Linked DNA regions of Homo sapiens. The protein of the gene in region 2 interacts with the protein of the main gene of each other region in a pairwise test. Each region holds a gene or a part of one and is shown on either strand. Other genes may lie near its edges.

Region 1 (3,749 bases), on a different chromosome or scaffold from region 2:
GATGTGGCTGCGGCTGCTGCTGCCGTCGTAACTTTAATGGTTTTTTTAAGGTTGGCAACCTACCAGGATGAAAGGAATGGGGATAGCAAGGAAGGTTCCAGAACCTTCCAGCCCCTGCTCATCTGGTTGTCTGCTACAGCCACTGTCCAAATTCTCTCTGCAAAGGACAAGTCGCCCAGGCTGGAGGAGTTTGGGTCTGCCTGCTCCCCTGACTGCTCACCTCACTCTCAATCTGCTGCTTCAGGCCCAGCTGCTGCTCCTTGTGTTGGTTGGCACGGCTCACCTGCTCCTCAATGCCTGACAGCACGACCTCACAGCCCACACACCTGCAGGAGTCAGGGGAGAGAAGTGTCAGCAGACAAGGGCTGCGATCACAGACTCACAGAAAACTGACTCAAAAAGAACCCTAGAGGCAGGGCGCAGTAGCTCACCCCCATAATCCCTGCATTTTGGGAGGCCAAGATGGGCGAATTGCTTAAGCTCAGGAGTTCAAGACCAGCCTGAGCGATATGGCAAAAATCCGTCTCTACAAAAAATACAAAAACTAGCTGGATGTGGTGACACGAGCCTGTAGTCCCGTGCTACTCAAGAGACTGAGGTGGAGGGTGGCTTGAGCCCTGGAAGTTGGAGGCTGCAGTGAGTCAAGATGGTGCCACTGCACTCCAAACTGAGCAACAGAGCCAGAACACAGCTTCTGGCATTTTGAGTCTGAGTTGGGAACCCTCACCAGGGCACCTAGAAACCACCTGTGATAACACTCCTAGCAGTGGGATGGACACTCGGTGTGGTCAGAGAGGGATAAGGAAGCGCCTGGAGTGATGAGCAAGATGGGAGTAGGAACTGAAAACAAAATAGGGTAGGAGATGCCAAAGAGAAAAAGAGGTGACTTAATGAATACAGAAACCCTGAAGTTAGATGGGGACACAAAGAAAATAAAAAAGAGGAAAAGGGTCATGGCCTGTGGATAATGGTAGTTACAGATCAATCGACAGAGTCTAGCCTAAGACAGGCGACCGACCTTGCTGGTTAGGATCCCCTTAAGTATACCACTCCCTTTTCCTCCCCCAACTACTATATCAAGGACACTGACTTCTGCCGCCTCCCAGGGCCTCCCCTACTCCTGCATTCCCCAGAAGCCTTTGGAGGGATGAACTCATTTCCCTTCATCCTCTTGGGTTCCACCTCTGCGGACCAGCCCAGCTCCTGCCCTCTCTCACCCTGAAGCGCCTTTCTCTTTCTCAGGGTGAGAAGGGGACAGTGCCAGGATACGGTTCTCACCATTCCTGCAGGGTTCGGGCAATGGCACTGAGGTCCTGGCGCTGGATGTCCCGCCCGATGCTGTAGTCAACCTCGAGCCGCTGGTTGCGCTGGTCCAGGGAGCCACGAAGCACGTCAGCATACACAGCCTCAATCACAAGGTCTTCCAGCTGCCGCACATTACGCAGGGCAAGAGCCTCCAGCAACACTGCATATGGGATACACTGGGGCCGCGGAGATCAGGCCAGGATTTGTGACGCTCCGTAGTAGAGAAGGGCTTCCAAAAATCTTCCCTCCTTTTCCCCCTGCCCTAGCCCACCTGCCCTCCACTCCCATTCCTAAATCACTTCCTCTAAGAGGCTGGTTCTAAAGCAAAATAAATAAAAGTATTCCCACTTCAAAAACAGCATCATTAGAAGGACAATCTTAAATAAAATACAAAATGCTCCCCTAACACCCTCACCCCTGACACACCACAGAAGGAGAAAATGACATCTGCCTGGGTGTCACTCCTTTAGCCACAGCTCAGGGTATCACCCAGTCCTTAGTCAAGATCAGCTTGATACAGGGGAGTAAGCAGAAGTGGGAGAGGTGTGGAGTTACTGTTTATCATTTATACTCTGCCTACCTGCAACGGGCATTCCTTTGGAGGTATCTCTCAATAGAGAGCCTGGTTTAAATTAAATCCCAAGGACAACTGAGAGTCAAGTAACTATTGCGAGGTTGCAGACTGGGCAGGCTGGGGAGGTGGGTGGTGATATTAGACAAAAAACAGCCTAACAGGAATACAGAGATACTTCTAGAATATATATGTTTTATCCTAACAAAGAGAAGCCTAGCACTTCATCAGGAGAGCCCTGTTTCCAGCAGTGGGGAAGAAGGTATTGTTGAACGACACCTGAACAACATCCTAGTTGCTATTTTGACCAAAACCACAGAAGATGTTTATTTAGAACTTAAGTTGATTAAAAAATAAAAACAACACAGAAAACTAAGAATACTATCAGCCTAAACAGTTGCTAATGGAGTTTATATACAGACCTTGGAGGAGGGGAGGGCAGGAAGCAGCCACGGTCTAGACAAGGGCTGTCCTAGTGTGGACTCCCAAGGACATACAAAAGGATGCTCTAGACCGTAGGACTGGGGGACTGCCACTCACCTTTACTTTAGCAGCCAGGGTGACAACTGAGAGGTGTCGAAGCTTATTCTTCTGAGCCTCTGTTAGTGGAGGAAGATTCCGGGCTTCAGCTAGGGAAAAACGACAAAGTGTAAGGAATCCTGATTTCAGTTTTCTGGGAAGCCCTAGCCTCCTTCCCTTCCCTCCCACTTTCAATGCCAATTCAGGTCTTGACCCTGACCCTATGCATCCAGGGATCTAAGTGGGATATCCCAGGAATTTCTTCTGAGTCCCTCCAGAAATTGCCCTTCTCCCATCTCCATTACTCCAGAGCACCAACCCCTCTGGTTACCTAAGTAGTCAGCGTATGTCCCATAAGCAAACACTGTGAGCAGCCGGAAGGTAGAGGCAAAGTCACTCTCAGCCAGCTGCGAGAATGAGGAAAAAGGAGGTGACGGGAAGTCTTCCCTCTCCACCCTCCCAGCCTTACCCTGTTTGGAACTCCACTTTTTGGCCCCATCTTTCCCGGCCAATGTTAACTCTCCTGGCTCACCAAAAGGAGTTCTCTGCCTCTCTGATCACTCTTCACATAGGAAGGGCTCATTTCCACCTTCAGGCTTTTGTTTACACTATTCTCCCAAACCACAATGCCCTCTTGCTCCATACGTCATCCAATTCCTACCCTAAATTCAGAGTTGAAGACATTCAGTTTTCAGAGTCAAACAGACATACACACCAGACACTGCAAATTGTGTTGCCTGCCCTCAGAGTGTTTGATGTTTCTAAATTGGAATATGTCTAGACAGTCTCCAGTACTCCCCAATTCACCAGACTCCTGCCTCAGCCTCACTCATCTCTGACAGCTGCACAGCCTAGAAAGACATCTAAACTTATGGTCTCTGCTTCAGACACACCTGACCAGGACACTGTCTTGCATCACCCAGCCCAGTCCACCCAGATTTCCTCTCCTCCTATCATGGATCACTCATTCTGGCACTTTTTTTTTTTTTTTTTTTTGAGACAGAGTCTCCCTCTGTTACCCAGGCTGGAGTGCAGTGGCGCGATCTTGGCTCACTGCAACCTCCGCCTCCCAGGTTCAGGCAATTCTCCTGCCTCAGCCTCCCAAGCAGGTGGGATTACAGGCGTGCACCACCACACCAGGCTAATTTTTGTATTTTTAGTAGAAACAGGGTTTCGCCACATTGGCCAGGCTGGTCTCGAACTCCTGACCTCAGGTGATCCACCTGCCTTGGCCTCCCAAAGTGCTGGGATTATAGGCGTGAGCCACTGTGCTCAGCTTCATTCTGGCACTTAATCAATCAATCCTTGCAGAAGGTTGCTACCTAAGAATATCTTTCAACAAGATTATAGACCC
Region 2 (3,749 bases):
CTATAGTCACTTGTATTTTAAGCATTATACTATGTTGTATTCTTTTAGTAAGGAAAAGATTATGCAGTTGCTCTGTAGAAATAGAGAAGTTGGAAACTTGAGGTTAATGCCCATGGACTTAAATATATCCTCACTGTTACCAGAAAGACAGAGTGTGACCATGGTATCTGTCATGACAGTAATTGTCAAAATTGATGGGTCTACTTAAAGGTACCAATTCAGGCCTAATTTTTTTTTTCCCCCGAAACGGAGTCTTGCTCTGTTGCCCAGGCTGGAGTACAGTGGCGCAATCTCAGCTCACTGCAGCCTCCATCTCCCGGGTTCAAGGATTGTCCCAGGTTAAAGGATTCTCCCACCTCAGCCTCCCGAGTAGCTGGGATTACAGGTGTGTGCCACCACACCCAGCTAATTTTTGTATTTTTAGTGGAGACAGGGTTTCACCATGTTGGCCAGCCTGGTCTTGAACTCCTGACCTCGAGATATCTGCCCACCTTATCCTCCCAAAGTGCTGGGATTACAGGTGTGAGCCAGCCTGGTCTTGAACTCCTGACCTCGAGAGATCTGCCCACCTTATCCTCCCAAAGTGCTGGGATTACAGGTGTGAGCCACAGCACCCGGCTGAGGCCTAATTATTAATAGATTCTGTACCTTAGTTGTTAAAATGTAGCATTGCAGGCTGAGTGTGGTGGCTCATGCCTCTAATCCCAGCACTTTGGGAGGCCAAGGTGGGAGGATTGCTTGAGCCCAGGAGTTAGAGACCAGACTGGGCAACATAGTGAGACCCCTGTCTCTGCAAAAAACTTAAAAAATAAGATGGGCATGGTGACGTACACCTGTAGTTCCAGCTACTCGGGAGGCTAAGGTGGGAGGATTGCTTGAGCCCAGGAGATGGAGGCTGCGTTGAGCTGTGATCACACCACTGCACTGCAGCCTGAGCGACAGAATGAGACCCTGTCTCAAAAAACAAAACAAAACAAACATAGTATTGCAGTATAGGGGAAAAATAGATCAATTAGGAGATTAATTCAACAAGTAGCTGCTTGATGAACTGCTAAGCAGGTGATGTATTCTAGAGCTGGAGAAAGGGACAATCCCTCCACCTGAGTTTACTGAAATACCTAACCACTACAGTCCCATGCGAGGCAGAGAGGGCAGATACCCAGCTTAGCCATGGGGAAGGGAGCTGAGATGAGGGTCTAGAGACGCCACAAGTTGATTGCTGAATGCTGGATGAGGCTCAGTCAGGTAGCAGAGGATGTGGGGGAGAAGGACAGAGAACAGCATGTGTAGAAGCATAAAGAGGAGAGAAGATAGAATGTTGATTTTCTGAGCTTGCTGTGATCGAAGAGTAGGTGTGTGAGGGGAAGTAGCAGGAGATAAGGCTGGAAAGGTAGCAGGGACCAGTTATTGAAGGGCCTTAGTTCAGGCTGAGGCGTTTGCACTTCTTAAAGTCATTGGAATAACTTGATTGAATGCACAGTTTATAGAACAGACAGTACTAATATGGAGTGCGGGTTGGAGGAGAGAAAGATCACAGTAGGCAGACCATTTAGAAGATTTATGATGTAGGCTGGGCGCGGTGGATCATGAGGTCAGGAGTTCAAGACCAGCCTGGCCAAGAAGGTGAAACCCCCGTCTCTACTAAAAATACAAAAAAATTAGCCAGGTGCAGTGGCAGGCGCCTGTAATCCCAGCTATTTGGGAGGCTGAGGCAGGAGAATTGCTTGAACTTGGAGGGCGGAGGTTGTAGTGAACCGAGATTGCGCCACTGCACTCCAGCCTGGGCGACACAGTGAAACTCCATCTTAAAAAAAAAAAAAAGATGTAGTCCAGACAAAAAATGATGAGGATCTGAATTAGGGCAGAGAGGGGAGAGAGAAAGAAATGGAGCTGAGAGACTTTGGAAGTAAAACTAAATCATTTGGATGCAGAGAGCTGTTAATAGTAACGTGCATTTCTGGCTTGGGAGACTAGAAAACAGAATAGAGAAAAAGGTGAAACATTCAGGGTCAGAGAGAAGTGGGAGGTCCAGTGTAATCTCTAATTCGTTTTGAGACCACGGACAGGTTGTTTCACTCCTCTGGTCCTTCTGGATCCTCATCCGAAGTGAAGGAGATTAAGAATCAATTTTGGGAACTTCAGGCTCTGAAGTACAAAGTTGTGGTTAGAGTTCCATCAGTTTGGTTAGTGCTGTAGCTGAAATGCAATAGTGTTGTTCCTGTTTTCCAGGGCAAATGACACAGCTTTGTGAACTGATCAACAAGAGTGGGGAACTCCTTGCGAAGAACTTATCCCATCTGGACACTGTGCTCGGGGCTCTGGATGTACAAGAACACTCCTTGGGCGTCCTTGCTGTTTTGTAAGGAGCATCTTCTTTTATAGTTCTGTGCTTGTTAAAATGGAACACTGTGCACTTCCTGGCTTTATTTTTATTTATTTATTTATATTTTTTGAGATGGAGTTTCGCTCTGTCACCCAGGCTGGAGTGCAGTGGCACATTCTTGGCACACTGCAAGCTCCGCCTCCCGGGTTCACTCCATTCTCTTGCCTCAGCCTCTTGAGTAGCTGGGACTACAGGCACTCGCCACCCGCCCCAGCTAATTTTTGTATTTTTAGTAGAGACAGGGTTTCACCATGTTAGCCAGGATGATCTCGATCTCCTGACCTCTTGGTCCGCCCACCTTGGCCTCCCAAAATGCTGGGATTACAGGCGTGAGCCACCACGCCCAGCCCTGGCTTTATTTTTATTTATTTATTTATTTTTTGGTGTAGAAAGTAAACCATTGTAAATAACATTGAGCTCTTTTGCAAAACTAAAGTTATGGCAGTTACAGTTTATTGATTCCAGCTAATAATTGCTTGTTATATTTTGTTCAACTTTATCATTTTTAAAAACTCTTTTATGTATCCGGGCATAAAGAGGTTGCAGTGAGCCAAGGTCGCGCCACTGTACTCTAGCCTGGGTGACAGAGCGAGACTGTCTCAAAAAAATAAAATCAGTTGTTGCAGCTGGGCACAGTGGCTCCCGCCTCTAATCCCAACATTTTGGGAGGCAGAGGCAGGTGGATCACTTGGGGCCAGGAGCTCCAGACCTGCCTGGCCAACTGGTGAAACCCTGTCTCTACTAATAAAAAAACTAGCCGGGTGTGTTGGCGCATGCCTGTAGTCCCAGCTACTCAGGTGGCTGAGGCATGAGAATTGCTTGAGCCTGGAAGGCAGAGGTTGCAGTGAGCCAAGATTGCACCACTGCACTCCAGCCTGGGCGACAGAGGGAGACTCTCTCAAAAAAAAAAAAAAAATCAGTTGTTGCTTTTCCTGCTTTGAGAACATACTAAGGGGGCCAAGAGTGAGAGCTATGGGCTGGCTGGAGGTGGGCAGCAGCTTAAGTTAAAGATGCTGCCACCAGCTGTGTGGTCTATCTGAGAATAACACTGACAGAACAACTGATAGGCAGGACAAGAGGAGTAGAGTGGTGAGAAGAGGGAGGACTCAGGTGATCCTTCCCAAGTAACTCAGACTGCCATGAGAAACACTCCAAGGAGGCACTGGTGATAGGTTTTAGGGGAGAAATCATGTAAACTTAGCACTATTAAGGCATTGGTTGTAAGTAAATTTCAAATTCTTTAAAAAAAAAAAAAAGCACGATTGAAATGTAATTTCAAGAAAAATTAGGCCAGACACAGTGGCTTACATCTGTAATCCCGGCACTTTGGGAGGCCAAGGCGGGTGGATCACAAGTTCAGGAGTTC

What was found. Proteins that work in one complex are often made in the same cells at the same time.
Region 1: the proteins of COPS3 (region 2) and COPS7A interact in binary tests that used the Homo sapiens proteins (3 or more experiments, as listed by UniProt).

The regions. Positions count from the first base shown.
Region 1 is NC_000012.12:6,726,979-6,730,727, reverse strand, and holds part of COPS7A (COP9 signalosome complex subunit 7a), read right to left. Parts: intron 2,803-3,749; coding exon 2,727-2,802; intron 2,506-2,726; coding exon 2,417-2,505; intron 1,482-2,416; coding exon 1,279-1,481; intron 327-1,278; coding exon 221-326; intron 60-220; coding exon 1-59.
Region 2 is NC_000017.11:17,274,645-17,278,393, reverse strand, and holds part of COPS3 (COP9 signalosome complex subunit 3), read left to right. Parts: intron 1-2,210; exon of another isoform or gene 2,211-2,229; coding exon 2,230-2,359; intron 2,360-3,749. UniProt on the Homo sapiens protein: Component of the COP9 signalosome complex (CSN), a complex involved in various cellular and developmental processes.